Linked DNA regions of Homo sapiens: region 1 is linked to region 2. Evidence: fine-mapped expression QTL. A gene starts in region 2. The other region holds a variant in brackets. All regions are shown on one strand. Distances are between the middles of the regions.

Region 1 (16,286 bases), 60 kb before region 2:
TGGTGCCCCTAGTCACATGTGACTGAAGATCACTTGAAATGTGGCTAGTGTGACTGAGGAACTGAATTTTTTTATCTAATTTTTTTTTGAGACAAGGTCTGGCATTGTCGCCCAGGCTGCCTTCTGGGCTCAAGCCATCCTCCCTTCTCAGCCTCCCAAGTAACTGGGACCACAGGCACATGCCACCACATCCGGCTATTTTTTTTTCCCGGTAGAGACTGCTCACCATGTTGTTTAGGCTGATCTCAAGTTCCTGAGCTCAAGCAATTGGCCTGACTTGGCCTCCCAAAGTGCTGGGATTACAGGTGAAAGCCACTGCACCTGACCAATCTTATTTAACTAATTAAATAGCTACATGTGGCTGGTGGCTACTGCGCTGGACATAGAGGTCTAGTTGGTCACACCTGGCTAATGAGCCTTTTTGACCTTGAGTTTCCAATATATCCCATATCCTTTGGCTTTTTTTGTTTGTTTTTTTATGACTGGAAGAGCCAGCCTTGCTTCTGTTTACTTTGATTGCTAGATTTAACATCCCCACAAGCCTGAGAAAAAGAGAGGAAAGGATTGCTCTTGGAATCATTGTTGGTGTGCCTCAGATTGCTACGCAGGACAGCATTCTCTTTGATCACAAAAGACAACTACATATACTTTGTGCATTGATGTGCACGAGAGTAAACTGGTTGTCATACTGAAAGACCAGAAGCTGTTTCTGATGGGAAATATTGAATCAGCAGAATTGAAAACACAGCTGTGTGGTTCTAATGGGAATATAATTTCTTCTGTCAATCAGTGCTCACTTAGTATCCATTGTGTGCAGAGCATTCACTATTCCAGCCTCTGCAGGGAGACATCAGGGAGATGCTCACCACGTGCTTTTGAATGATATTATTTGTCTTTATTGACTCTAAGAAATGTAAGAGGTTCATAAAACATTGAAGCCATTAAGGCCTTATTTGAGAAGTCTAGCAACTCACAGTTGCCCTTGGAAAGAGGCAAATAGGAAGGGGAGAGCCCTCTGTCAGACTTGTTTTCCATCGGTGACATGTGGCATGGATTTTACCTCCTACCGTTAGCTGGCCACCCTCTGCATTCAGGCTTGTGAAGCATTCTGGAGGCCCCCCCGCCCCATCCTCCACTCCCGGCTCTTCCTTTGGCATCCCCACTGGCCATATTTCTTTCCTAGTCTGTTCTGACAGCCTCCTAACTGGCCACTTGTCCCCAGTCTCTGGTCACCTTCAGCTCACCCCAGTTCTGGGACCAGAGGACTGGCAAGTCACTTCTCACAAATTCCGAATTGCTGCTCACTTGCCCTCGGGATAGAGGCTCTATTCAAACTGGACTTTCTTCCCTTTTAGAATTGGCTTCTCTATGTGTTCTCTGAAAGAAGAATATCGTTTACTGTTGTTGATTTGATGGGGGCCGCTTTGGAGGAGGAATTTAGACCATAGATGGTTCCTAGGGATGCTCCAGCAGTCTCCTCTCCTTTCCTACCTCCTCCAAGCAGGCCACATGAGCCAACTTCACATCTGTGCTCTCTCAGGATGTAAAATCGTGGGCAGACTAGCATCCCAGGGTCTGAATCATTCCTTCCTCTGTAGAAGAAGGATAATGAGGATAACACTACAGGACTATTGTGAGAATGAGGATTAAACCGCAGGTCCAAATTTTCTAGCATGGTACATGGTGCAGAGGAGGGGCTCAACATATTAACTGCTGTTGTTATTGTGTACTACCCTTTTCCATGCTGCATGATTTGTGTTTCTTTTTTGCCTACTGCCTCATATCTTATGTGAGATGAAATTAGTTCCTCTTTAACTGCATCTGTTTAGAAGGCAGATTTCCCATTAAAAACCTGCTGGCATCACATGACCAGCAAGTTCACACCAACGTGTAAACCCAAGAAAACTGAAACCATATATTCACACAAAAACCTGTACATGAAAGTTGATAACTGCATTATTCATAATAGCTAAAATTGGAAACAACCCAAGTGTGCATCAACTGATGAATGAATGGATGAACAAAATCCGGTTTATCCACACAGTGGAATATTAGCCATAAAAAGAAATGGAAGTACTGACCCACGCCACAACATGGATGAACCTAGAAGACATCGTGCCAAGTGCAAGAAGCCAGACACAAAAGGTCACAGATGACTTCATTTATGGGAAATGTCATGCATAGTCAAATAAATCGGTATAGAAAGAAGATTCGTGGTTGCCAGGAACCAGGATGGGAAGGGATTTAGTAGTGGCTGCTAATGGGTACAGGGTTTCTTTAGGGGCAATCACGTTCTGGAGTTAAGATAGTGCTGATGATCACGCAACTTTATGAATATATTAAAAATCACCGAATTGTATACTTTAGAAGGTGAATTTTGTGGTATATGAATTGTTTCTCAATTTAAAAAACCTACCGGGAATTAGCTCAGATTTTCTACAAATTCTCTTAATTCTTTGCTTATCTGTTTATATCGATAGAATTTTTAAAAATTAATTTGAATTTCCTTTTACGAATGGTAAGGAGATTTGCCCTTTGGGGTTTCACTCCGTCCAGTGCTCTTGCTGTCGATTCTGTCTGTTTGCCTTTTTTGTTGTTTTCGTTTGTCCACTCAGCATCTCAGTTGGCCTTAGCTGCAGCCGTCTGCAGCCGCCTCCTCCACTTGGGGGTTAGGTTGCACATCTGTCCCAGAGTAGCTCATCTCACTGGTTATCACATTAGCAGTCACTCATGTCAGCAGTCCCCGAAGAAAAGATAGCTGGTTGGCTGGGGATAAAGCATCTGAAACTTTGCTGGTCTGATGATATCTTTCTGTTGTTTCAGTACATGTGTCACTGACAACTTGCTTAGGTAAAAGTGCCCATAGTTCCTTCATTTGTTCAACAACCATTTACTGAGGGCAGAATCCTCATTCACTTAGTGAATACTTAGTAATTGTTGAATACCTGGGTACTAGGGCAGGAGCAGCCAAATGAGAAAAAGGACTCTGTCCACATGGAGCCTACCTGCTGGTGGACGATACACAATAAACATAGCGAACAAGGTAAGACTTTTCGCCCTCTGCACCTGTAAGGCCATTGAGGACTAACCTGGCTGGGAATGGGTAGGAAGAGCTGCTTCAGAGGGGTGTCTAGATATACCCCAGAGGATGCCAGCCATGTGAAGACCTAGGGGAAGGAAGTGTCTCATAGAGGTTGGGTAATAGAGGATCAGCGTGGCAATAGCTGAGTGAGTGAGTGAAGGGTGTGGTATGTGCAGCAGATGCACCTAGGTGGGGTCTTCAGAACATGGTGAAGAACTCAGACTTTTTTCTTCTAGCAAAGGGAACCCATTTTAGGGACTCATGTGCATGTTTCAAGGATCACTGCAGCAGTGGTCATACTTGTGTGTTTGTAGCCCCTATTTCTTACGTCGTGCTTGGCGCATTCATAGCAGGCACTGGGTTCTGGTTCAGAACTGAAGTGGATGAATGCATGGAGAATGTACTAAACCCGGAAGTGTGCCAGACTCTGCACCCGAAAGTTCTCTGCAGCTTCTCCAACTTTAAGAGTGTTCTGCAAACACACTGAATGCTTTGCCTGGATCTTCCTGTGAAGATCCAGGCAGAATTTAGTAATAGAAATTTGTAAAATTTATTCTTAAATTCTTTTGCAACTGTCTTGATTTCTTCACAAACATAGTCATCATCTGTTTATCAAATGGGCATTTTAAATAATATTTGACACATAACTGGCTGACTCCACAGCTCCAAATTAGTCACACGGTAGTCTTTTGATAATAGCCAACATGTGACAACAGGGATTTTTTGCACGAGGTGGGGAGCATTCTGGTTTCCTTTTCATTTTTCCAATATGTCATATTTCTCACTTCCACTTTTCTTAGAGGGGAGGGTTGTCTTTTTGCTTCAAACTATTATAGGCTTTTACTGAGAGACAAGAGGCTATGAGCCCCACTCAGTAGAAGAAGGGTTTAAGTCTATCATATAAATTATTGCCGCTCTAACTTCTCTCTGTCCCTGCCTCTTAAGTCATTTACGGTATTTGTTTGGGTAGCTATATTGGATTTCTTCCGTTTTTCCAGGGGAAATACAGCAACTTTGGAGAGACGTGAACATGGGAATATATGAATTGATTGCTTGAGAAGTGTTAGTGTTAGTTCTGGAATGAAGTCCTGTGTCATTAGGTGCTTACGTTGAAAGGAAATGTAGAATTTTCCATAGTCGCAGCTTTCCAGATTTTAATTGGCTGCTTGCCCTCGTGTCACTTTCTTTTCTAAAATAAATGTTTTGGATGGCTCTTATCTTTACAACCAGGCACACAGCTTCATTTCCTCCTAACTAGGAAAGTTAACTCTTCAGCTACATGGTGGTACACAATGTTGTCCCTGCTCAGCAGCCCTTGAACACTCATTAAATCCCACATTAGAGCTGCAAGGAGATAGTAACATTTATTAGGTGCCTCATTTTTTTTTTTTTTCTCTGAGAGCGGATCTCGCTCTGTTGCCCAGGCTATAGTGCAGTGGTACCATCAGGGCTCACTACAGCCTCAACCTCCCAGGCCCAAGTGGTCCTCCTGCCTCAGCCTCCTGAGTAGGTGGGACCACAGGCACACTCAGATATTTTAAAAAATTTTTGTAGAGACTATGTTGCCCGGGCTGCCATTGTTTATCCATTGATTTTTTATTTTATTTACTTATTTTTCTTTTGTCTTTTTTGTTGCCTAGTTTCCCCCCTGTTCTTTGCTTCTTAATTTTGGTTGGTCAAAATCTTTCTTTTAACATTTTGTTTCCTCTTCAACCTTGGGAATTCTTCTGTTTCTATTCTTTCTTGCCTTTTCCTTGCTTCATTTCAGGACTCCTTTCCAATGAACCTGCCATTTTTTCCTGCAAAGATTGTAGTTTAAAAGAAAGCCCACTGGCCTGAAACTTTATGTAGCTAAGCAGCTATTTCAAATTCTTTCTGAGGTTGAGGGCAATAAATGATAAAATCACGCAGTCAGGCAGTGTGTTAGTTCTCTAAAGACAAGAGTTCAGAGTTCTGAGTTCTCCAAAGACAAGAACTAGTATATGAAGAGGTTTATTATAAGAAACTGGCTCACATGATTACAGAGGCTGGCAACTCCAAAATCTGCTGAGTAGATGTCCTGGTTTGAGTCTGAAAGCTGGAAGCTGCTGTAGAACCCAGAAGAGCTGATGTCCCAGTGCAAAGGCATCAGGCAGGAGAGTTCAGTCTTACCAGGGTCAGTCTTTTATTCTATTCAGCCCTTCAACTGATTGGGTGAGGCCCACCCACATTATGTCTGCTTTACTCAAGACAACTACTAATTTAAATGTTAATTTCATGTAAAACACTGATATGGCTGGGCTGTGACCCCACCCAAATCTCATCTTGAATTGTAGCTTCCATAATTCCTTCGTGCTGTGGGAGGGACTCAGTGGGAGATAATTGAATCATGGAGGTGGTTTCCACCATACTGTTCTCATGGTAGTGAATAAGTCTCACAAGGTCTGATGGCTTTATAAGGGGAAACCCCTTTCACTTGGCTCTCATTCTTCTTGTCTGCTGCCATATGAGATGTACCTTTCACCCTCCACCATGATTGTGAGGCCTCTCCAGCCACATGGAACTGTGAGTTCATTAAATCTCTTTCTTTTGTAAATTGCTTAGTCTTGGGTATGTCTTTATCAGCAGCCTGAAAACGGACTAACACACCCTCACAAAAACACCCAGAATAATGTTTGACTGACCATCTGGGCACCTTGAGGCCCTGTCAACTTGATGCATAAAATGAACATCTCAGGCAGCTCTTGCTTTCTCAGTTACAACAGGCCCCGATCCTGGCCTTTGGGTTATTTGTTGTTTGATATATACAGAAATTAAACCCAAATTTAAAAAAAAAGGGACTGAAATCTCAATTCCTAACCATGGCATTATTTTTACATTTATACCATTCTGATGCCTGTTTACCACATTTTGTGTGCATTCTTTTTACTGGTCTCTGGTCATCTGTCTCCCATTCTTCACAAGAATTGTTCCAAATCTTCTCCCCTTTTCACAGGGTCCCTTTCCAAAACTCCAGCTCTTTTGTGCTTTGCTTAAGATCTGGCCTCTTCCCAGATAGGAGAGGTTGTTTACCTTGCTAAGGTCACACAGCTACTGTATGGTAAGACTGGGATTTAATTTGAAGCAGTTGGTCTTGGTAGTCATGGGAGCCCACTGGGTGCTGGGTGCT[G/A]GGCACTGTGCCACGTGCTAAATGCCCCAGACTTCCCCATGCTGGGTCCTCCTCGTGCTGGGAGGGTGTGTACTCTTCCAGCCAGCATGCCCTGCCCCTTCTGCATGCCACACTCTGCTCTGATCTTCAGCCCAGCACCCGTCCCTCTGCACACAGGCCTTTGGCGCTTTGTTTGCTCCTATGATTTTCTGCTATTTTCTGTTTAATTCTCTCCTTTTTATTTGCATTATATAAACAGTTCTGTTTCTTTCATTAAGAAAACACCTCTCACAGGCACAGTGGCTCACATCTATAATCTTAGCACTTTGGGAGGCTGAGGTGGGAGGATTGCTTGAGCCCAGGAGTTCAAGACCAGTCTGAGTAACATAGTGAGACCCCATCTCTATTAAAAAAAAAAATTAGCCAGGCGTAGTGGTGCACACCTGTAGTCTCAGCTACTCAAGAGGCTGAGACAGGAGGATGGTTTGAGCCCAGGAGGTTGAGGCTGCAGTGAGCCAGGATCACATCACTGCACTCCAGCCTGGGTGACAGAACCAGACCCTGTCTCAAAAAAAAAAAAAAAGACAGCCCTTTTCTCTGACCCCTATGTCCCTCTCATTTGAGGAACTATCTATCTTTTCATTTTCCTCCACATTCTTTATTCTTTTTAACCTCCAAAGAGGCCCTCCACCTGCATTACGTGCCTTGCCCCATTAATAATGTACTAGTGCTATGTATGCTTGATTTTACATAAATGTTTTATTGTGCATTAAGGTCCATTCCCCATGCATATGCGCACATAAATTGCACTAATTAGAGTGCACAGCATGTTATATTGCAAGATTACATAAAATAGATTCAACACTTGGATATTGTCCAGTACATTAATTCCTTTCTTTTACATAGGACATAATATCATTGATTGTGCATGGCACATTAAGTCACATCAAGTCACATCAATCCTTAACAACATGCTTATCACTTCCAATAGGATTTCTTTACCACCAAGCTTTGAGAAACCAGCAACCTACTCAGGAAATGTCCTTCTTGCTTTGGGCCCATAAAACCTAGGGGCTTCTAGACTTGAAACTATACCTAGCATCTGGTTCTTACTTCAGGGCCATAGATTTGAAACCACTCATTTGTTCCCCCTAAATAAGACATCTCAGTGACTAATGACTAACTAGCACAAGATGACATGGAACTGTGGGGTCATGCATTTGGTATTTTTTAATTTTGGAGGGTGCTGTGATCCAACATGGCTGTCAATGCCTTGACACAGTCAGCTAGATCGTAGCTGCGCTTAAATGGAATATTCTTTACTCACATAAAATCATTTGGTGCTAATTGATTCATCTCAATGGACGTAATAAAAACAAGATATAGACACAGACACATACAAGCAGTTCTTCCTGCCATGTATGATTAACTTTGTAAACCCCTCTACCCTCCTTAAGCTCTTATAGTATCTGAGTAAGTCTTTTATTCTTGCCAACCCTGCCCAAATAAGAAACCTTGTATCTATTGACTGCTAACTAAGGCTCCTATATATACTCACATGCTATTAAATTTAGTTATAAGTTCATCTAGCATTAACCCAACTCCTAATTAAAGCATTTTTCAAAAATCCAAACATCAATTAAAAATTAGGCTTTCTAGGCTAAAAGTTTTTTTCTTACTAAGATTACCAAAAGAGCCCCCAATGCTAACATAGCACATAATTTAGCAGTTTTTTTCCCCAGGACAGAATTTTCTAGATATAAGTCGATGTAGCTCAGTCCACTAAAGTAAGGCACTGAAAATGCCTAGATGAGTTCATGTAACTGCATAAACACACAGGTTTGGTTCTGGCCCTTCTATTAATTCTTAGTAAGATTACATGTGCAAGTATCTGCATTGCATGTGTAATCAGCAAAAGAGCAAAAGGAGCAGGCGTCAAGCACACTAATTGGTAGCAACTAACGTCTTGCTCAGCCACACTCCTACAGGAAATAGCAATAATAAAAAGCAATAAACAAAAAGTTTGACTAAACTATGCTAATTTTCCTTAGGGTCAGTAAATTTTGTGTCAGCCACCACAGTCATAAACCCAAATTAATAAAATCTGAAAAGCACGTTTGTGTTTAGGATAATACAAATAAACTACAAAAATGACTTTAATATGATCTGAATACACAATAGCTAAGACCTAAACTGGGATTAAATACCCCACTATGTTTAGCCATAAACTTAAAGTTATTCACTAGAGTACTATCAGCAACAGCTTAAAACTCAAAGGACTTGGTGGTATGGTGTTTCCATCCCCCCTAGAGGAGCCTGGTTCATAATTAATAAGCAATGATAAACCTCACTATTTCTTGTCAATTCAGCCTGTATACTACCATCTTCAGCAAGCCCTAAAAAGGTCATAAAGTAAGCACAAGTACTTACATGGAAACATTAGGTCAACATGTAGCTTATGAGATGGAAAGAAATGACTTACATTGTCTGATTAAAGTACACCCAACCCATGATAAGCCTTATGAAACTACAGGCCAAAGGAGGATTTAGTAGTAAATTAAGAATAGAGAGCTTAATTGAATAAGGTTGTGAAGCACACATAGACCGCCCATTACCTTCCTCAAATGCTTCAATAAACTCAAGTTTATAATTAACACAGACCCATCTATAAGAGGAGATGTCAGAACAAAGAATACTGGAAGGTGTGCTTGGACAAACCAAAGTGTAGTTTAACTCAAGGCACCTGGCTTATGCCTGGAAGATTTCATATTAATCTGACCACTTTGAACTAAAACTAACAAAATTTAACAACTACATACACATTTTAACCAAAACATTATTTACAACAGGGAGGATAGGAGATGATAGAAATTTATTTAGATGCTATAGAAAAAGTACTGTAAGGGAAAGATGAAAGAATAAACTGAAAAAAAAAAAAAAAACAAAGCTTACCCCTTATGCCTTTTGCATAATGAATTAACTAGAACAATTTTACAAAGAAAACTTTAGCTAAAAACCCCAAAACCAGATGAGCTACTCATGGACAGTTACAAGAACAAACTTGTTCATGTGGTGAAATTGTGAGAATATCCTTGAGTAGAGGTAAAATGCCAGTCGAGCTGGGTGAGCGCTGAATTTCAATTCAACCTTAAATTTACCTAAAGAAATATTTAACCTTAATGTAAATTTAAACGTTAATCTAAAGAGGGACAACACTTTAGAAACAGGAAACAACCTTTTATAGAATGTAAACTATTAAATTCTCATAATTGGCCTAAAAGCAGCCACCAATTAAGAAAGGGTTCAAGCTCAACAATCAATATCTTAATTCCAACTATTTATATAAACTCCTAATATTTTACTGGACTAACCTATGTATAAATAGAGGTGATTCTGTTTATATAAGTAACAAGAAAAAATGTATCGTTGCATAAGCTTATATTGGATACAATAGCATTCCTAATGTTAGCTGATAGTTACCAACTCAATAAATTAAACCGATCAATTGACTGTTTATCCAAACAAATATTGCAGGGTTCAGTGGCTCACACCTATAATTCCAATGTTTTAGGAGTCCAAGGTGGGAGGATTGTTTGAGGCCAGGAGTTCCAGACCCCATCTTTACAAAAAATAAGCCAAATAGCCAGGTGTGGTGGCATGTGCCTGTAGTCTTCACTACTTGGGAAACTGAGGTAGGAGGATCCCTTGGGCCCAGAGTTGGAGGTTGCAGTGAGCCATGATCATGCCACTTGCACTCCATTCTGGGTGACAGAGTGGGACCTTTTCTCTAAAAAACAAAAAAGACCAATTGTTAATCCTACACAGGCATCCACTACTGCACTACTTAAGGAAAGATTAAAGAAACTAAAAGGAGCTCAGCAAATACAAACCCTGCCTATTTACCAAAAACATTACCTCTCATATAACTAGTATCAGACTAGTATGTCACCTGCCTTGTGACACATGTTTAACAGCTGCAGTATTGTGACCAGTGCAAAGGTAGCATAATCATTTGTTCCCTAAATAGGGACTTGTATGAATGACCACAAGAGGGTTCAAGTTTCTCTTACTTCCAATTAGTGAAATTGACCTTCCTGCCCCTGCGGAAAGGCAGGGATATTAAAATAAAACAAGAAGACCCTATGGAACGTAAATGAATTAGTCTACATAACACAACTTTAACCTAACTATTCAAAGGAATAACACCTAATCTACCAGACTAAAAATTTTGGTTGAGGTGACTTCAGAGTACAACACAACATCCAAATGATTAAAATCTAGACTAGACCAGTCAAAGTAACATAATCGCTTATTAACCTAAGCAATTTAATCAATGGAACAAATTACCCTAGGGATAACAACACAACCCTATTTTAGAGTTTGTTATCAACAACAGGGTTTGCAACCTCAATGTTGGATCAGGACATTCCAAAGGTGTAACTACTATTAATGAATGGTTCGTTTGTTCAATAATTAAAGTCCTATGTGGTCTGAGTTCAGACCGGAGCAATCCAGATCTATTTCTACCTATTCAGTATTTCTCTTAGTACAAAAGAATAAGAGAAATAGAGCCCATTTCAAAAAACTTCCTCAATTTTAATAGGTTATATATAATCTCAACCTAATATACTATTAAATGTCCTGCCAAGAACAAGGGCTTATTAAGATGGCAGAGCCCAGTTATTGCATAAAACTTAAAACTTTACAATCAGCTCAACTCCTTCTTAACAGCATGTTTATAGTTAATCTTCTACCTATTAGCCCCCCTCTCCTTGCAATAGCATTGCTAACAGCTGAATAAAAAGTATTAGATTATATACAGTTTCATAAAGGACCTAATACTGTAGGCCCCTATGGCCCACTTCACTTCTTCACTAATGCCATAAAACTATTCACTAAAGAACCATTACGACCACCAACATCTTCTATACTATCATATGCCATTGCACCCACACTGGCCCTGGCCCTTGCACTTACTATGTGAATTCTACTAATCTTACTGTACCCACTAATTAACATGAATATAGGAACACTATTCATTTTAACCACATGAAGCCTACCCATATATTCCATCCTTCAATCAGGATGAACATCAGTTTTAAAATGTGTGTTAATTGGTGCACTATGAGCAGTAGCACAAACAAATTTATATGAAGTTATCCCAGCCACCATTATTAGTTCTCTCAATAAGCAAATCATTTACATTAACAACTTTAATTGATACCTGAGAATATGTACGACTATTTTTTTCATCATGATCCTTAGCCATAATATGATTTACTTCAACAGTAGCAAAAACTAATGGAGCCTCATTCAACTTGACACAAGGTGTTGAAACTTGTGTCAGGCTTTAACATCCAATATGCTGCAGGCCAATTTGTCCTATTTTTTTTATATAGCAGAGTACACCAACATCATTATAATAAATGCCCTAACCATTATCCATTGCCTAGAAGAACTCCATGATATTCACATACCAGAAATTTATATACTCAACTTCATCATGAACACCATTTTCCTATCTTACAGTTCTTGACTTTGAGCATTATACCCATGATTCCAGTATGATGAACTCATGTACCTTCTATGAAAAAATTTCTAACCACTCAAATTAGCCTTATGCATATGACACATCTCAGTACCTATTTTACTACTGCATATTCCACCACACACATAAGAAATTTGTCTGATAAAATAGTTAAAGAGAGTAAATGATAGAGATTTAAGTCCTCTTATTTCCAGAATGTTACGAATTGAACCTACTCTAAAGAATTCAAAAATCAGCTGGGCATGGTGGCTCCCACCTGCAATCTCAGCACTTTGGGAGGCCAAGGCGGGTGGATCACCTGAAGTCAGGAGTTCGAGACCAGCCTGGCCAACATGGTGAAACCCCGTCTCTACCAACAATACAAAAATTAGCTGGGTGTGGTGGCACATGCCTATAATCCCAGCTACTCTGGAGGCTAAGATAGGAGAATCGCTTGAACCTGGGAGGCAAAGGTTGCAGTAGGCCGAGATCTGGCCACTGCACTCCAGCCTGGGAGACAGAGAGAGACTCCATCTCAAAAAAAACAAAAAACATTCAAAAATCTCTGTGCTGCCTAATATACCATATTCTATAGTAAGGTCAGCTAAATAAGCTACCAGGCCCATATCCCCAAAAACATTGGTTTATATTCTTTCCATACTAATTAATCCCCTATTTTTTCTACCATTCTATTTACTGTCTTCATAGGAAAACAATCACAATATTTAGCTCACATTGACTAATAATCTAAATGGGATTAGAAATAAATGTATTAGCCATGATTCCCATTTTAATGAAAAAAGCAAATCCATGATCCACAGAAGCAGCTACCAAATATTTCTTAACACAAGCAACCATATTTATACCCCTAATGATAGACAGCATCATTAACATATTGTATTCTGGGCAATTAACAGTCATAAAAATTCCCAAACAAACAGCATCCCCGGTAGTTACCATAGATAGCACTAATGATAAAACTTGGACTCTCCCCATTCCATTTCTGAGTCCCAGAAGTAACACAAAGAATTTCACTAATATCGAGCATAATCCTATTAACATGACAAAAACTGGGACCAAGTTCAATTATATTTTCAGTATCATATCATCGATTAATCCATCAATTAATCTAAATATAATACAAATAATTGCCATATTATCTATTCTAATAAGACGATGAGGAGAATTTAATCAAACGCAACCATGAAAACTCTTAGCCTATTTATTCACCAGTTGCACATATAGGCTGAATAATAACTATCCTTATTTATAATCCCCCACAATAATCATAAACCTTCTAAGTTATATCATTCCAATGATTACCATATTCATAATATTTAGTTAAAACATAAATACCACAACACTATCACTATTGCACACATGAAATGAACTACCAATAATAACTTCTATAATCCTTATAACTATTATTCTTAGGAGGCCTACCCCTACTTACAGGATTTCTACCCAAGTAAATTAACATTCAAAAATGTTATTATGCCAACATTCATAATTATTTTCTTTTTTTCTTGCCCCCCATTCGTAACTATTATAGTATTTCTCAACTTATATTTTTATGTATGACTATTCTTTATTATTAACTATATTTTCAACAACCAATAACAAAAACAAAATGACAATTGAAAAATATAAAATGGCTTGGGTAACATAGTGAGACTTCATCTCTACTAAAAATTAAAAAAAAAAAAGTAGCTGGGCATGGTGGCATGCACCTGTAATCCCAGCTACAAGGAGACTGAGGCGGGAGGATCACTTGATCCTGGGAGATCAAGGCTGCAGTGAGCTGTGATCATGCCACTGCACTCCAGCCTGGGTGACAGAGGGAGACCCTGTCTCAATAAAAAAATTAAAATATATATGTATAAAACAAATATTCTTTCTCCCATCACTTGTTTTACTATCAGCTCTTTTCCTCCCACTTTCACCAATATTTCCAACATCAAACTAGCGATTTAGGTTAGATAGACTAAGAGACTTCAAAGCTCTAAGCAAGTACCCTATACTTAATTCTTGAAACATAAGGATTCCAAGACTCTTACATCAATTGAATGAAAAAAAAAAACTTTAATTAAGTGAAATCCGTACTAGATTGGTGAGCTCCAACGTCACAAAAACTTAGTTAACAGCTAAAGCATTCTAATCAGTTAGCTTCCATCTACTTCTCCCGCTGTCGAGAGAAAAAAGGCAGAAGAAGCCCGGGCAGAATTGAAGCTGCTCCTTTGAATTGGCAATTCAGTGTGAACATTCACCTCAAGACAGGGTCGAAAGAGGGTTCAACCTCTGTCTTTAAATTTACAATCCAATGCTTATTCAGCTACTTTATCCTCTACCTGTGCTCGTTAACCCTTCATCAGTCTCAACAAACAACACAGGATAGTGACACTATAATTTTCTACGTGGTGTTTGAGCCAGAATAGTAGGGACTGCCCTAAATCTTGTAATCTGAGCAGAGTTAGGTCAACCAGGAGTCCTATTCAGTGACAATCAAATTTATTTATTTATTTATTTATTTATTTATTTATTTATTTATTTATAGACAGAGCCTCGCTCTGTTGCCCAGGCTGGAGTGCAGTAGTGCAATCTCAGCTCACTGCAACCTCCGCCCCCTGGGCTCAAGCGATTCTCCTGCCTCAGCCTTCTGAGTAGGTGGGACTACAGGTGTGCGCCACCACCACATCTGGCTAATTTTTGTAGTTTTAGTTGAGACAGGGTTTTGCCGTGTTGGGTAGGCTGGTCTTGAACTCCTGACCTCAGATGATCCACCCGCCTTGGCCTCACAAAGTGCTGGGATTATAGGTGTGAGCCACCGCACCTGGCCAAGTGACAATCAAATTTATAATGTCATCAGCACTATATCTTTATGGCATACCTATTCCAATTAGGCTTTCAATATGTAATATCACCTATGATAGAAGAACTTCTACACTTCCATGATTACACTTTAATCAGTTCTTGTGTCCATAATAATCGTTTTAATAGTTATGCCTATTTTAGTGAGAGGACTTGGCAACTGATTAGTCCCCTTATTAATCAGAGACCCTGATGTAGCATCTCCCTGAATAAATAACATATGATTCTGACTTCTCCCACCATCATTTCTACTCCTGCTTCCTCAACAGTGGAAACCAGCACTGGCACAGGATAAGCCACCTTTAGGCAGAAATCTTGAGCACGCAGGAGCCTCTGTAGATTTTGCCATTTTCTCATTACACCTAGTAGGTGTCTCATCAACCTTAGAAGCTATTAATTTATTACAATTATTAACATTAAACCACCAGCCGTGTCCCAATCTCAGGCACCACTATTTGTCTGATAAATGCTAATCACAGCTGTATTATCTCTTCTCTCCCACTCTGTTCTAACAGCCATATTCTTAAAAGACTGAAACCCTAATATCACTTTTTAAAAAAATCTAGCTGCAAGAGATCTAATTTTATATCAACATTTATTCTTATTTTTTTGCCACCTGGAAGTGTATATTCTTATCTTCCCTGGCTTTGAAATAATCTCACATATTATAACCTATAATCCTGGGGAAAAAGAACCATTTGGTTATATAGGAATGGTGTGAGCCGTGATATTAATTGGTTTTCTAGGCTTTATCATATGGGCTCATCGTATATTTACAATAGGGATAGACATTGACATTCAAGCATATTTTACACCGGCCACTATAATCACTGCTATTCCCATAGGAGTTAGGGTTCAGCCAACTGGCAACCCCGTGCAGAAGTAACATTAAATGATCTCCAGCTATATTATGAGCTTTAGGCTTTATCTTCTTATTTACAGTTGGAGGCCTCATAGAAATGGCATCAGCTGACTCATTGCTAGACATTGCTCTTCACAAAACATATTATGTGGCAGCACATTTCCACTATGTTCTATCAATAGGAGCAGCCTTTGCCATTATAAGAGGATTTGTTCACTGATTCCCACTATTTTCAGGTTACACACTCAATTCAACCCAAGCCAAAATTTATTTTAGCATTTTATTTGTAGGTATTAATTTAGCTTGCTTTCCACAATAATTCCTTAATTTATCAAGAATTCTCTGAGTTACTCCAATTACCCTGATGCATATAAAACATGCAATTCCATCTCATTGATAGGCTTATATATTTCATCAATGACAGTAATATTAATAATCTTCACAATCTGAGAGACTTTCATGGTAGTGGAAGGAAGCCAAGAACTGCCAAGAAAGTACCGAGAATTATCAGTAGTGGAACTTTCAACTACAACTTGAATGGCCTCCTGGCTGCCCATTAGCATATCAGACATTTGAAGAGCCTGCTTATGCAAGAGCTTAAAATAAGAAACAAAGGGGCCTGGCACAGTGGCTCACGCCTGTAATCTCAGCACTTTGGGAGGCCGAGGCGGGCGGATCACCTGAGGTCAGGAGTTTGAGACCAGACTGGCTAACATGGTGAAACCCTGTTTCTACTAAAAATACACAAAATTAGCCAGGAATGGTGGCGCATGCCTGTAATCCCAGCTACTCTGGAGGCTGAGGCAGGAGAATCGCTTGA
Region 2 (16,286 bases):
CTGTGGTCTGAATGTGTGTGTTTTCTCAAAATTCAAGTTTAAAACTTAATCCTCAATGTGATAGTATCAACAGCTGCGGCCTTTTGGAAAGTGAAGGTGGAGCCCTCGTGAGTGGGATTAGAGCTCTTATAAAAGAGATTGAAGGGAGCTACCTAGCCCTTCCATCTCTTCTGCCTTGTGAGGACACAGTGTTCATCCCTTTTGTCTTCCCACCATTTGAAGATGCAGAAAGAAGGTGCCATCTTGGAAGCAAAGAGCAGCCCTCACCAGACACCAAGTCTGCTGGCACCTTGATCTTGGACTTCCCAGCCTCCAGGACTGTGAGAAATGAATTTCTGTTGTTTATAAATTACCTAGTCTAAGGTATGCTGTTACAGTAGCAGGAATGGACTAAGACACACATTGTCAAAATCTTCATGAGTTAAAGGTGAAGGTACAATCAGAACTGGTGCATGGAATTGGAACCATAGGTCTTAGTAAACACTGTAAAAATGCACTATTCAAATCTACAGAAAATGCTCTCTCTTCAAGTTCAGAAAGAAGCTACAATCTGCTTTTCCTTTTTTTCTGAAGGGAAGTAAAATTCTATGTTTCTGGACTAAGAGGTCTACACCCCAGTCTTTCTCTTTCTGACATGTATAGTAATCTTTGGCAAATTACTCAAGCTTTCTTTGTTCTGGTGAAAATAAAGTGCACAGGACAGTATTACTAAGAGGCCTGAGCAACATTAGAGGTTGATAACGATGGTTCCAAAGGCCTTTAAGAAGGTGTAATGCTATGTGGATGTTTTTATTGAAACCTTCCCTGGGTTTTCAGAATTCTCTTTGGAATTAGTCCTGTGGGAATATGCCTTTTGGGATCTATTCTCACCTCTTATTCAGTCCCCCTTTTCTTGCATTACAATCTACAATTTGAAGTTATTCTGTCATTTAAAAATTAGGTCCATGACCTCATCATCACCGGGTTTTCCTCTCCAGGCCATTTCCAGTAGAATGTTGGTCATATTCTCATGTGAGAGAACAAATCAGTTATTCATTACATCTGATCAATGAGCTAGTACTACACCATAAGGAAGTGTAGTAAAACCAGAAACTGGGAAACACCCGAAAAAATTTGCTTTGTCCTGTGTTTTAATTTGGGGTATGATAAAGTGCCACAGGACATTAATCCAGGGACTGAGATAGACTCTTAAGTTTGGCAATCAGTGAAAGAACTTGCTGAATCTCTCTAGAATTAACCTAAAGGAGCCAGCCTCTTTTCTCATGAGAACAATTTATTTTAGGGTTAGTGGTGAATTAATTCTACAGTGTTTAATTCCACATATAAACTTCATTTTCTATATAAATGTTTTGTTGTAACATATTCAATTACTTCCTTTTGTTGTTTTTCTGCAACATTCCCTTTTTCACCTTTTCTAACCTCTTAAACCAAATAAAAAACTCACTTATCTTCTTGCTGTTGTAATATTTGCTTTCCTTTCTTGTTTATACTCTGTAATGATGTTTACCCGATCTGTCCACATCACCTGGATTCCAGGTGTACCATTCATGCCCTGGGGAAAGCAGTCATTCTTCAAGGCAACAGATGCAAGAATGAGCTCATGTCAAATGATATTTTCTGATTTTTTTCTCCAGATGTGGGGAACGAAATTGGATCTTGTGCTTTTGGGTGCTAACTTTGAGCCCTCTTCCTTTACATCTAAATGACAATTTGTGGATCAATGAGGATGTGTCAACTAGCCAAGATCGAGGACCTGGAGGGGTGCTCTGTGGAAACTGCTTTAAAATCCTTCAGAGGGTGGGCACGGAGCTCTGGTTCTGGTATGTTCACTGAATCTGTAGCAGTGGGGAAACTTGCTGAGATTTGGCATTCAAGACCAAAGAGATTTACCTAGGATCTGTACCCTGTTGGCCAGAATTATTGCTACTGTTGTTCTTCAATTATGCTACTTTTTCACTTGGAAAGAGATGGAAACTTGTAAGGCAGTGAATCTATCTTTACTCCTTTTCAGATGGCTGATTCTAAAGGCAGGTTTAGGTTCCTGCTAACCCTTCTGTTCTGTCCTGATTGTCCGCCTTACTGAAGGTCTGTTTTCTACAGCTCACAATAGTCGGGTAGAGTCCAGTGATGCCAAGCCACAGAAATGAGACCTTGGAGGGAGAAGCACTACAGGCCTTTGCTTCAGTTTCCATAGAAATGAGCCAGAGGTGGTACCAGTCACAGGGGTTCTTAAAGCCAGAGAGAATTTATTTTGAGAATCCCATCATATAGCAAATACCACTCTGCAGTAGTTTTTACAGGTGTAATTTATTTCATTGCTCTGGATGGCTTTGGCTCAGGCTTTCCAATGCCCTGTTGCAGCATTTCTCCTTAGGAGAATTCTTTTTTTGTTGCTTTCAAACTTGATGGAAAAAGATAACCAATTCATGCCAGTCAAGCTACAGATTCTGAACAGAGGGTTTAAGATAATGTATTACATTTTACATATTTACATTTAATTTATGACATTTATTCCTGAAGGTTTAGGAGAAAATTCAATCCCAACTAAAGAGCTGTAATTAAAAGAGCACGGAGCCAGCAGCCACAGGCCCCCAGCTCTGGCTGAAACTTCAGCTCTGCCAGAGATAACATTTCCTGTGTGACCTTGGGCAATTTTACAGCTTTCTGAGCTACGATTTCCTAGTTGGTAAAATAAAAGGACTGGATTGGCTGCTCTTTAACTTTTTCTGGCTTCTGAATTTCTCTGAATCAATGGTGTTACGTAATGCCAAGAAAGAGATTCCATGAAAAAATCTAACTGCTCTGTCGATGATGATTACTTAGAAATGGGGGTAAAAAAATTTATTTGCAGGAAGGTTGTTAGCAGTAACATCATAACGGAAGGAAAAAGAAAGGAAAGAAAAGAAAAAAACCTACCTATTTACCAAACTTCTGCAGTGTGCTAAGCAAATTCACAAACATTATCTCATGTGAAAAGACATAATAATTTCAGGGATTTCCCTCTTAAGGAAGAGAGATGACATTGTTGCTTGTTGCCCCAAAAGTGTTGTGATAGCAACATTCATGGAGTGTTTCTATGTGCCAGGCACTCTTTGAGGCCCTTTACACATACTGACACAATTTATTATTCCAATTTACAGACGATGCAGTTGAGGCATAAAGAGGTTAAGTAGCTTGCCCAAGACCATCCACTTAAGTAGCAGAGCCAAACTTTAAACTCAGAGAGTCAGGCTCTTGAAATTGCACTGTTAACTGTATCCCCACCTTGTCTTTTGCTATTCATTCATTAGGCAAACATTTGATGAGCACTGACTCTATGAAGGCATTAAGTTAATCCCTTTTGAAGATTCCAAGCATGTCACCATATCTTTGTCTTTAAGAAGCTTAAACTATACACAATAGATGATCAGAAATGTGTGTGAAATGAGTGACCACACTCAACCTTAGCCAGGCAGTACTTGATAACCATCTCCTGTATTCTGGAAATGTTCATAATTCCATTCAAGTAAGTAGACAGGGCCTGGCAAGAGGGGTCCCTGCTCTGGGCTCCTGCCCCAGAGGTCCCACTCTGGTTCTCCAGCCCTGGTCCTCTCTATGGCCAAGGAATCCAGGGATCACAGAATGCACGTACCTGGAGCCTGAGTCTCAGCCCCTTCTAACCTCCCTGTTGGGTAGTTGAGACCTTGCAACTCTCTTCTCCAAACCCACTGAGCCTACTTCCAGGGCTTGTACTGGAAGCAAACCCCATGAGGGCAGACCACATCCCCCAGGCACATGCTCCTCAGCCAGAGGGATGGCCAAGGGCAGCTATTTGTGGGAGGGGAGTATGGACAGACCTTAGACCCATGGGCCCACAAGGACCCGTGTGTAGCAGGACTGAACTGAGGATAGAAAGAGGAGTGGGTGGGTCAATTCCACCCACAATCCCACTGCCATGTTCAGTGCAGAACTCCAAAGACTGAGAGAACTCTACATTAGAACCTGGCCTTTTAAGTTTTTATGAAGATAACTTGTCAAGGTATGAGGACAGCCCATGTTTCAATTAAACTTGCTCACTTGGTTTATAGCTTTTACAATTTAGACATATGGGCATGTGGGTTTCTATTTGGCCCCAGGATACCCCTCCACTTCACCTCACGTTTACTCTGTTTCCTGTGCTCACCAAGCTCTAGCTCTTTCAGTTTCTTTCGTTTTCTAGAACTCCCCCAGGACGGTCTAACTCAGACACTCTTTCTGGTCTGTCTGCTCTTTGGGTGGTGACATCACGAAGTGGCTGGTTATGAAAGGAGCACTGTGCCGTAGAACTGAGGAAAGCACAGGCTCTGCTAGAGATGTTAAGTATTCTCTCTCCCTGAAAGCTGGTTCTTCTGAAATCAAAATATTCAGGGGGGAAGGAAAAGAGGCACAGGGCATCTGAATTCCAAAGGACTAGGGAAGCCACCACTTCCCGGATAACTGCACTCCCTCCACCTTACACCTAAAACAAGGTTGAAGAGTCCTGTCAAGGCCATCTCAAAAGGAGAAGCAAAGCCTGCAGAGGAGGCCAGCCTGAGTCCTGGGGTGCGAACGGGTGCTGCGCTCAGCATGAGGAGGAGGAGACCCTGGCCACAGTTCCATGAATCTTTGCTCCCTTCCACATTATGGATTCTGGTGAGTGCCTGCCAGAGGAATGTCTGACAGCTCTACCCTCAACTGGATCATCTTTAGCCCAAATTACAATAATTTAAGTGAATCAAATTACTATAAAAAGATACTTCATTATTAATTCACTGGACATTTACTGAGGGCCTACTCTGTGCCAGGCAATGCTCTGAACTTGCCCTACCTATTGGATGCTACGTGCTAAATGTTATAGACAATGTACTCTCGTACATTCTATAAATTATATAGGATATAATGAGTACTATATTCTCTATGCTTTACATGCTATATTAAACATCACACCCTATAGTCTACATACAATGGATAATATACAAAATATATTATATATGTATTATGTCTACTAGAACAGTCTTTTGCCACAATAGGAATTTAGTAAATATACATTGAATGAATGAATGAATGAATATGATACTTAATACCATATTCTAGCAGAGCTTGGTCATTGAAGAGTTATTCTTCCAAACCCTTCCCTTTCCTACCCCCCTCTTGAAGGCTAAGAAGATTTTCATCTTTCACCACCTGTTCTGGATTCTTGGAACAGGTAAATTCATTGGCCTACGCAAGTCTGAGCTCTAGGTCTGAACCCGCATGGACCTGAGGGTGCACCGAGAAAAGAAAGGCTGACAACTGGATCCCGGGAATGTCAAGGCCACCCTGGGCTTGAAGGGACCGGCCATGCCTCCAAGCCTTGCCCAGAGAGGGGGTTCAGGATGCTGCGTGGTTCCAGGTGATCTATTGCTTTCTCGAGTTTAAAGTTCAGAGGATCATGAAGTACCACAGCTGGAAGGGGTGTAAGTGACACTGCCTAGCCTAACTCTCTTAAAAATCATAGCCCTACTCCTGCCTCCCCAAATCAGATACGACAGGCATAGGCTCTGACTGTTCCTTAAGTCTTAGTGGCAATACTCCCTGACCAGTTTTGCGGGGTTGCTCCCAGTTCCATTGCTTTTGTAACAGGTGGCCAGAAAGCCTGGGGTCCCGTGATAAGAGTTTCAGTTCTTTCCAGGATGGATGGAAAGAAGGAAGGAAGGATGGATGGATGGATGAATGAATGAGCGGGTGAGCGGATGGATGGATGGATGGATGGATGGATGGATAGATGGGCCAGAGACTGGGAACGGTAATGCCGGCCAGACGGGTCCGAGCGCCTCGGGAGCCCCAGCCCTCCTCCGGCTGCGGGGCCGCTGCTCCTGCTCCCGGGCCGTCACGGAGCCCTGAGGGAGGGGGCGGGCGAGCGGGGGCCTTGGGGCGGCCAGGGCGCTGGGAGGGAGGACTGGGCGGTGGGGACCGGAGGGGAGGGAGGGCCTTGGAGGCGGAGAGGAGGGACGGGCTGGGAGAGGGCCCGGACTAGGGGCGGCGGGCACCGCAGGAGCTCCGCGCGGCTGCAGCGCGGGCGGGAGCGGGGACGCGATGTCGCCGCCGCCGCCTCCTTGCGGGCCGGGGCTGCGCCTCCGGGGCTGAGCCGCCGCCAGAGCCGACAGCCGAGCAGCCGCTGGGCGCTCCCGCGGCGCAGGAGGATGGGCTGCGGCGGGAGCCGGGCGGATGCCATCGAGCCCCGCTACTACGAGAGCTGGACCCGGGAGACAGAATCCACCTGGCTCACCTACACCGACTCGGACGCGCCGCCCAGCGCCGCCGCCCCGGACAGCGGCCCCGAAGCGGGCGGCCTGCACTCGGGTAAGTGGCCGGGCCCCTGCAGACCCTCGCCCGCCCGCTACCCCGGGCGCCTTGGCCCGGGCACTGAGAGAGGAGCCGGTTCCCTGAGGAATTGATGGCGCGGCGGGGGTGGCTGGGAGGAAGCAGAGGCAGGACCTGCCCACTGATCAGTGGACAGATGCAAGCCCAGGGAGTGGGGTCGACCAGAGCCCCTTACCGAAGGCTGCGCCGATGCCCCAGCTTCCAGCAGCCCAATGCTCTTTGGCCTTGTCCAAAGCTTGCTCGCTGGTCGGGAGACCGGTGGGTGGGAGGACAGCCCACCTCCTCCGCACACATATCCCTCAGCCACCCACCCCCTGATCCGCCCAGGGCCGCCTCCGCCCCGCTTTGGCCCATCTGCCATCCCCTGGCCACCTGCGTACCCAGCCGGGTGACTTCTCATCCATTGGCCACCTGGTGCCCCTCTCTCCCTGGATTTATACACAAGGCGCCTGCCTGGGATCGCCTGGGTGGAGTCTTTCTTGTCGCTTCCCCTTTTCTCCCTCTAGGAAATGAGCCCACTCGCGGGCTTCAAAGACCAGAATCCCAGTTTAGGTCAAAATAAATGCACCCCGCCCCATCGCTAGTTCTGCACTTTAGGTTACTTTTGGAGCAGTTGTTCCATAGCAAAGGACTTCTCTCCCTACCCTATGGTGTCCCAATGCTTTGCAGGAGGCAGGGCACACATGTGGATTTTGACTATAAATTAAATACTCTTGCCTAGGTCATTCCTCATCCAGCAGAAATCTGATAAAAGGAGATGCAAAGAATTGTCTGGTCAGGTCATAAGTCAGGATTTTATTTTATTTTATTTTTTTATTTTTTAGCAGAACAAGTAATTATAGCGCAGAGATGCAAACTGTTGCCACAGACTGACCTTTAATCATAAACATATTGGTGACATTAAAAGGAAAAAATCTCACTACTTATTACATGGATGTTGTCCAAAGCAAGGTCAATATTTGGATAAAAATGTTTTAAGTGTTTCTTCACCCACTGATATTATTGGCATTTTTGAATAATGAAATCTAAAATGGAAAATAGGGTTAATTTGAAGCATAATGTATAACATATGGAAGAGGAAGGAAATGCGAATTACTTTTACAAGGTTAAGAATCTTAAATCCATGCCTACTAAATAGAGCTGTCACTTTAATCAAGAATAGGTTTCTCCATTTTTAAGGACCAAAGCTGGCTCCTTTTCCACATTAACTTTGTGACTTGGTTTTATTTTAAAATTGAGGACTGTCTGTGAAAGCTGTACAATACATTACACTATATTTGTCTCCAGTTTTTCTGACTCACAGTGGCAATCAGAATGGTTATTTTGTATTGCCAATGCTTTTAGCAAGTCACCAAATGGTGTGTTGGCTGAATTCAGTGTCAGCATGAGGATAGATATGAGCCTTTTAGAGGGACCTGGTAAATGTTAGATGTGACAGGGTTTCCCAAGGAGGTATGGTACTTCTCAGCAGAGAGTCAAAGGCCAGAGATGTACTCCGAAGAAATAAGGGTGAAAAGATCTAGCATGAAAAAAATAATAATAAAAAACAACCAAAACCCCGTAAGTACAGCTTTAAGAAATGGTTGCCGTGGTGACTGGGAGTATATGGTGTGTGTGTGTATGTGCGTATATGCATATGTATGGGTATGAAAGAGTTATTATGGGATGGCTCTATATGTACATACATGTTCCTCACAACTTTCCTGACACTCCTTGATTTATTACTCTGCCATACTAATTCATATCCCATCCATCATGAGATCTGGTCACTGCAACAGGTGGGGCCTGGGACAGACACACTCATTCATGGTACCCTGCCAAACATGGGCCAGCCCTGCCAGAGAGGTGGTCCTGAAGGCCTGCATCCTCCAGAGGAGAAGCTCCACTTCAGCCCCAGGACAGCACCCTGAAATTGGCAAGACGCTTGTATGGGCAGGGTCATTTTAATTCCCTGGGAATTTCTGTTAGCCTCAGGGGAGAGGGATATTTCTGAAGACCAAGATTAAATCAAGGCCTTCTTTGGGGGTGTACTGGCATTCCCTAGGGCCTTTGGGAATGGCTTGACTTCTGTGGGTTTTTCAGACTGGGAGCTGGTCATCTTTAGTCAGAATGGGTCATCCGTGAAAGCTACAGATCTCCTGGGTTTCAGCCACCCTGGGAGACTGGCCAGGATTCTGTATTCCTTTCATCTTCTCTGCCCCCTCACTTCCACCTCACCCACCCCCTGCCAGTGCTTTACTCATGATTTTACTCCCAAGCTGCTGGGGGACACCTAACAGCCCCCAGTGGCTGCGTTGTGATAGGAGGCCAGAATGCCACTTTTTCCTGTTTACAGAAGTTGTTTTCTGATGGGAGAGGTGGGTAGGAGTAAATGAAAGAGCCAGTAGATTCAGGAGAGTCCAGACTGTGAAATCAACAAAAATGGCTTCACTACTAGAATTCTAGAGCTGGAGAAGGTCTCTGGAAGTCAGCCACGTGAGTCAAATGAGACTCTCAGGGGAATCATCCCCATCTGAACACTCCTTCAACCACTCACAGACTTTACCCTCAGCTCCCAAGAATCCCTTCTTTCTGGGACCTTAGTGATTCTCCTTTGGTGTCAAACTGAAGCCACCTTTTCTCCTGGCTACTTCAGGACTTTTGAGGGCTAGGGGAGAAGCTAATTCATCTTTGCATCTTCTGTGCTGAACACATCTGGGACTTGTAAAAGTTTTCAGAATGAATGGATGCTCTGTCTGAACCTGTCCTCCGTCCTGTCAGCTCTTCCTAGAGCCCCTTCTGCCTCTTCTTTGCAGTACTTGCTACTGAGGTTTTCCCACTTGAATCAATTTAGCCTGAATTCTTCCAACGGCCTTTCTGATCGCACAACTTCTCTTTAAAAAGTTCTCCCCAACTTTACCCTACTCCATTCAAACACCTGGCCCAACCCAACGATTCCATTTCTTCTGTAGCCTCCCTGAACCCACAACCTCAACTCCACAAACATGTCTGCCCAAGAAAAGTCCCATTTAATCATATCTGCTTTTAAATCTCACTTGTGTTTCTCTTAGCCCAATCCAGATTGAGGGTGTGTCACATGACAGGTGTTCAGCAAATATTTGTTGAATGAATTCTGAATTTCACTGCAGGGAGGGGGCATGTTTTTCTCCCAGTTCCACAAAGAAGAAGGTTTCTTGCATCTTCTTACTCAAAAAATGATCCTGAGCCTGTGGTTCCTGTTTTTGGAGATCATCTCCACTACTCAATGGAATTGAATTAATTTTTTAGATTTGACTGTTACGTAGGCTAGAATTTAAAAGCTAGCTGAAGCCAAGGTATGTGATATCCATTGCTTTCCTGTGTCACCAAAGTCTGTCCCTCTGTTACAGAAGGAAATTAAATTGGTCTGACATAATTTAATCCTCATAAAATCAGTCTGCTGGATTGATTTTTAATTCTGTTGCCTGGTGGGGGTCTCCAAGGAGAAAGGAAGTCTCTGAGGTTGCCATGACCCAACCTAGCTCAGTCATTCCATTCATTAATAACTTCCTAGCTTCATCTCAGTGTAATCACAAGCCCCAAAAATTGCATCCTTAAGCACACTTTTTTTCTAATTTCTCCAGAGAAAACATTTCAAAACTTTCTAAAGGACTTGTACTTTACATTTTTAAATTGCTAAATCATTGTCTTAGTATAATAGAGGTTTGCAGAATTACAGACAGCAAAATGATTTACCTAAATAAACTGAAAGATAGTCAAATAAAATGGACAGCATTTAATATCACCATTACCCATCATTTATTAATGACTTACTGGGGCCTGGTGCTTTATTGGGCACTTTGAATTTTCTCATTGAATCCTCACTTCAGGAACGAGGCAGGAACTATAGCCACCCTCCTTTTACAAGTGAGGAAATGAGGCTGGAAGTCTGCAAGTAACTTTTCCCAGTTCCAGCCTGGAATCTAGTTCTATCCATTTCCAAAGCCTCTACTCCTAAATACTGCCTTCCTGATTAATAGGGGATATGCTATGAAATTCTTGATTTTACAGTTCACTAAACTCAAAGTCAAGTCTGATCTCTTGATTCTACTCTGATCTCAGACAGCACAATTGTCTTCTGCATCATCTCTAAGGATGGAATATCTTTTCCCTAAGGAAGGAGGCTTTCCCATAACTTTATGAAGCAGTTCTCCTGTGAGACTCTTCCTGCTTCCTTGTAATTTCTACCCGGTGAACTCCAGACCCATGTGATCAAGTCTTGCACAGACAACTCTTTCAATATTTGAAGATGGCTGTCACATCTCTTACCATTGGTCTTCCAGGTCAAATACATGCAGTTCCTTCAATCACTTCTCACACCTCAGGTAGGCCTGACCACATTCTCTAAATACACTACTCGGTTTGTCAAAGTCCCTCTTGATACAAGGGACCTATGGCTAACTCCAAGCTACTGATGTCAGCTGAACGGCATAGGGCAATACAAGGTGTGCTATGATATGGTCATTGAACAAACCTCTCTTGGTGCATGTAAAATCAGGTTAGGATTTGTTTGTTTTCCTGCTGTTGTTGTTGCCATATTACCTTGAAGACTCACATTAAGCTTATGATTAGTTAAAATCCTTAGATCTTTCTTTATAATCAAATTTAAGTTTTATGACATCAAGGACATTGTATTTTCTCTGCTATGTACCCAGCACCTGGTACAGTGACTAGAACGTAGGTGGCGCTCAATAAACGTTTGTTGAATGAATGAATTTCTTTCCTTATGAATCCTGAATTGGTATAATTGACTTCAGTAACCCAAATAAGGAATTTTTGCATTTATTTCTGTTAAATTTCATCTTATTGGTTTCAGTTTAACGTTTAAATTTGCTGACCTTGATTCATTTTGATAGAGCTATGAAAACAATATTCTAGGTCTTTGTTTCTCTGTGTTGACAGAATAAGATAAAAGACATCTTTTTTTGCTCTTTTGTTCACTGAATAGACATTTGGCACAAAGATGACCTGAAGAAGTTACTATTATAGGGAAGAAAAACATAAAAGTGGACACCGTTCAGGTCAGCATTGTCCATGGTCCATACTAGAAGGGCATGTAGAAAAGCATTAGAGGCATTCAGGAACTAAGCAGTTTTTTTCTGCCTGGGGAGGGGTCAGTGTGTATACAGACCCCTGCAGGAGCCCAGCAGAGGAAGGGGGACTGTCCGAGCCAACCCTCCCACCCTGGAGAGGAACAGGAGTGCAGCCCAGCTGGCCTGACTCCATCCCCGAGAGTGAGAGCACCTGTGGAGAGGACAGCCAGGGCTTCCTGGTGGATAAACCCCCTCCACCCACACCCCAGCTGCCTTGACTTACCTGTTACCGCTTGTGGTTCTATCTTTGAATAACTAGTGATTAATGTCTGCTTCCGTCAAGGATGACTGTTAGGTTTGGTAAGGCAAGGGTTCTGTTGGGTTAGATAAGGTTTCATTTCACACACAGTCCTATCCCTGTACCTAACGCTGTTCTGGCTACATCAGGACCCTGAGTAACTTCTCATAAATGAATAAATCTAAAACTTCTGTTTGTCAATTTCTTCTTGTAGACCCCAGAGATGATGTTCTCTTTCCTCATCAGTTCTCTCTGCTCAACTTTTTGTTGTCTGTCTGATGGGCTGCACAGTAAGAAAACATCCCCACCTTCCTTACACCCCTTTTGCCAAACACAAGCCTTTTTGTTATAAGCTGTTTCTTAAAATCACTGCAAGAGACAAGTGGTAACAAACCTAGGCAGTTTGTAAAGGTTTAGGCAGCCTCATGTTCCCATGGCCCTTGTCTCCTGGGCAGAGTATCATGTTGTGCCATTGGCTCTCCAGACACTTTGAGAGTCTAGTGATGGTACCTGTCACACTGCATTGCCAGGGCTTGGTCATTCCTCTGTCTCTCTAGTTAGTCTGTGAGCTCTTCCAGGTTGGGGATCACATGATTGATATTTGCATGCCTGGCATCTTCCACACATTTGTTGAATGACTGTGAAAATGAATAAATGAATGAATGATCTAGCTGTGCAAATGAAGCTTAGTCTGTCATTCTTATAACCTCTTTCCTGAGTCTCATCTTAGATGCTTTTGTCTTAGATATCAGTCCATTGAACCTTGTCTTCATTGGACATTAGATAAAACAATTCCAACCCTAGCCAAAGATGAATTTAAGGTGACTCCACTGCAGGGTGTAGTAGTATCCTAAGTGCATTCCAGAATTTCCTCCAGAATATGTAGAAAGAATGAATAAGACCTACTATTTGATAGCACAATGGGATGACGATAGTCAATAATAACTCAACTGTATATTTTTAAATAATTTAAAGAGTGTAATTGGATTGTATGTAACTCAAAGGATAAATGCAGATTTTTTTTTCTGCAAAAAACATTGCAGATTTTTTTTTCTTCGGTTAATAGGCCCTGGTGGGAAGAACCTAGTCTTCTCTGAGTCAGAAAGGGGTCTTTTCCTGGCTCATTCTGCACTCAGCAATCCCTCAGGTTTGGACTCCTGGAGGTCCAACCTTCACCCTGGGATCTGTGCACCTGTGATCCATAGCATCTTCCTGCTGATAAGGCCATTCTGCCCTTGTGAAGTTGGGTGTCTAAACCTGTTCTCGGACAATGGTGCTGTGCCATTCATCCCAGGAGCCCTCCCATGTCAGGCCTACAGCCTCGAGACACTCTCAGCAGACCTTTGGCCTCCGCTGCAAAATCCTATCCCTATAAAGACTCCTTCAGAGCCTCTCTGGCCAGTCTATATGCCACATTTACTCTCCTCTGCAGAGCAGACTCGAGGGGTTTACCCTGAGCCCAATCATGATATAGCTCCTGCTAGCTTGGCTACCAGGAACGCTTGCTTCCTCACATGCCTGACTCCCACTCTGTCTCATGCCCAACCACAGCCATCTCTCTTGAGAATGTTGTTCTTTTAGAATGTTGTTATGTGCTGATTTGTGTCTCCCCCAATTCACATGTTGAAGCCCTAACCCCCTCTCTACCCCGGTACCTCAGAATGTGACCTTATTTGGAAAGAGAATCTTTAAAGAGGTAATCAAGTTGAAATGAGTTCATTAGGGTGGGCCCTAATCCAGAATGACTGGTGTCCTTATGAAAAGGGGAAATTTGGAGATAGAGAGACACACAGGGAGAACTCCATGTGGAGATGAAGGCAGAGACCGGTGATGCTGCCACCAGCCAAGGAGCATCAAGGAAAGTCCACTGAAAACCACTGGAAGCTCAGAGAGAGGCAGGGGACAGATTCTCCCTCAGGGCCTCCAGAAGGAACCAACCCTGCTGATATCTTTTTTCATTTTTGATTTCTGTGGGTACATAGTAGGTGTATGTATGCATGGAGCACATGAGATGTTTTGATACAGGCATGCAATGTGAAATAAGCACATCATGGAGAATGGGGTATCCATCACCTCAAGCATTTATCTTTTGAGTTGCAAACAATCTAGTTATACTTTGTTATTTCAAAATGTATGATTAAGTTATTATTGACTATAGTCACCTTATTGTGCTGTCAAATAGTAGGTCTCATTCATTCTTTCTGCCTTTTTTTGTTTGTTTGTTTTTTGTAACCGGCCTGCTGATATCTTGGTCCTGGACTTCTGGCCTCCAGAACTGGGAAACAGCAGGTTTCCGTTGTTTAAGCCATGCGGTTTGTGGCACTTTGTTATGGCAGCCCTAGCAAACTAATGCAAGTGTGTTTATGAGCACTAACACTGTGAACATTTGGAAATAATAAGAGAGACGGATTTCCACTGTTACTTCCTCACACTTTTTTCTGAGATTGGATCTATTTCCTGGCTGTTTAGATTCAAATAGCATTTATTTGTATCTACTATTTGCATTTACTATATGTGAGAATTTTTCTTTTTGACACTAGTTTATATCACCCTCCGAAATAACCTCATAAACCATTGTTCTCATCACTTGCCAGATGAGGAGCTGGGATTCAGTGAGATGAAGAGACTGAGCCAGGCCACCAGCTTGGAAGTGGGAGAGCTAGGATCAGAATTCAGGTCTCTTGTTTCTGAATTCAGGGCAGGGTCCATTGTGCTGTGCTGCTAAGCACGAATGTAGTACCCTCCCCCCACCCCATCTGCCTTGGGCTTTTCTGAAAATATTAACCATTTAGCGTGGGAGCCTCCTGCTAGCATTTACAAGGCTGAGTCCTGCAGCTCTGCGGTGCTTACACTGCCCTCTCCCTGTGCTGAGTGCCCGTGCTGCTCCAATCTCCATCTCCATAGAAAGGGTTGCAGGAGGTGCCCCAGGTGTCACCTGCATCCCAGTCACCTGACAGGCCCATTAAACAGGAACAGTCTTTAGGCAGAATCATATATTTTTTTCTGGTTTCAAATGCAGTGCATGCTCCTAATTAAACATTTAAAAAGCATAGAAAAAGCACACAGAGGAAAATAATGCCTCTCTCAGCATTTAGGTTTCATCTTTCAGGTCCCATGAAGACGATGCTGTATTTGCATCTTATACGTGAAGGTGATGTTTAAAGTTCCGGATGGGGGGATGGGAAAAATTCCTCAAACTGCTTGGAAGCTCAAAAACCAAGAAAAATTATATTTGTTCATTTTTGTATTTAGGAAACTATATGGAGGTAGTGGGAGCCCAAGTCTAGTTTGAATGGAGGAAGAGAAAGGGGGAAAGGTCATGGAGAAGTAAAGGGATTTTTCTTTTTTTCTTTCAATACTGGGCAAATATACTTGAATTCAGGCAAATTACATACCAGGTAATTACTGTAGGTGATTCCTCCATGTTTCCCTCTTACCTCCCCCTCAAGCCCCCACAACAGGCTCAGGCTGAGTATGCTGTTCTATATTTTTCCTAGCTGTTTTCTGGGATTTAGTCTCTTTATGGGTTGTATTAGTCTGTTTTCATGCTGCCGACGAAGACACACCTGAGACTGGGTAATTTATAAGGAAGAAGAGGTTTAATGGACTCACAGTTCCATGTGGCTGGGGAGGCCTCACAATTATGATGGAAGGTGAAAGGCACATCTCACATGGCAGCAGACAAGAGAAGAGAGCTTGTGCAGGGAAACTCCCCTTTATAAAACCATCGGATCTCATGAGACTTATTCACTATTATGAGAACAGCATGGGAAAGACTCACCCCCATGATTCAATTACCTCCCACCTGGCCCCTCCCACAACACGTGGGAATTGTGGGAGATACAATTCAAGATAAGATTTGGGTGGGGACACAGCCAAACCATATCATGGATATAGAAACATGGCTGTGTGTGTGTGTGTGTGTCTGTGTGTCTGTGTGTATGGCTGGGTGTGTCTGTGTGTGTGTGTGTGCAGGGACCAGCTTTCTGAGTCTCAAATGCCCTTGAGGTCAGACAGGTTGGCTGCCCAGAGCTATGGCTGGTACCACTCCATAGGCTTCCAGCTCTAGGTCTTTGTGTCAGATGGGATAGGTACCTAATGTCTGCCTACATCTCACCATGTGGCTTCTGTGTAATGAAGCAAAACCAAAAGTCTGGGTAGGTTTTTCTTAATCTAACACAATCTGCTTTACAAATGATGCCAGCTTCTCCTAGATTCTGGGATTAGGTTGCCTACCAGTCTTCACTTGTGGTGATGTTGTGAGTCTTGGTCTTTTTCTATGTCTTCACAGGCATTTTAGTGGGCAGTTAGGCAAAGCTGATGCCCTTTGGCCTGGATATCCAACCCAGGGATTCTTGACCTTCTTCTCTAAGCCATTATCCTGAATTCTGATACAGCCACACCCACAGGATCACCCGGCCAGATCCGGTCTCTGTTTACAATTTCATACACTTCCTCCCCAACTAGTGAGCCAGCTTTTAACAAGGATCATGACCTCGGGTCCCTGGGCCTCAACCTGCTCTCTTCATCCATCACCCTCCCTGCTACTTTGTTTGGAGATAATATAATAGTTGCAA

Which allele goes with the higher level. Positions count from the first base shown, and alleles are read on the strand shown. Sizes are in standard deviations (SD) of each study's normalised expression.
With allele G in place of A in region 1, the expression in monocytes of the gene that starts at base 6,624 in region 2 is higher (large effect, 0.85 SD a copy in Quach 2016).

Evidence for each region.
Region 1: its variant is fine-mapped to the expression of BAALC-AS2 in monocytes (Quach 2016, PIP 0.95). The same link has a PIP of 0.9 or more in monocytes after Pam3CSK4.

The regions. Positions count from the first base shown.
Region 1 is chr8:103,074,711-103,090,996 of GRCh38, forward strand. It overlaps the pseudogene MTND1P5, the pseudogene MTND2P10 and the pseudogene MTCO1P4. Among named protein-coding and RNA genes, the nearest start is that of LINC01181, 38 kb to the right of the region's middle. RefSeq lists an enhancer at 3,827-3,996. The variant G/A (reference allele first, on the strand shown) is at 6,231.
Region 2 is chr8:103,134,719-103,151,004 of GRCh38, forward strand. BAALC-AS2 (BAALC antisense RNA 2) reads right to left here and starts at 6,624. Exons shown (of 2, transcript NR_027071.1): 1 at 6,536-6,624. BAALC (BAALC binder of MAP3K1 and KLF4) reads left to right here and starts at 6,007. Exons shown (of 3, transcript NM_024812.3): 1 at 6,007-6,339. The coding sequence starts at 6,180. LINC01181 (long intergenic non-protein coding RNA 1181) reads left to right here. Exons shown (of 6, transcript NR_145429.1): 3 at 1-573; 4 at 1,635-1,820; 5 at 4,488-4,650; 6 at 5,155-5,637. RefSeq lists a silencer at 6,043-6,232.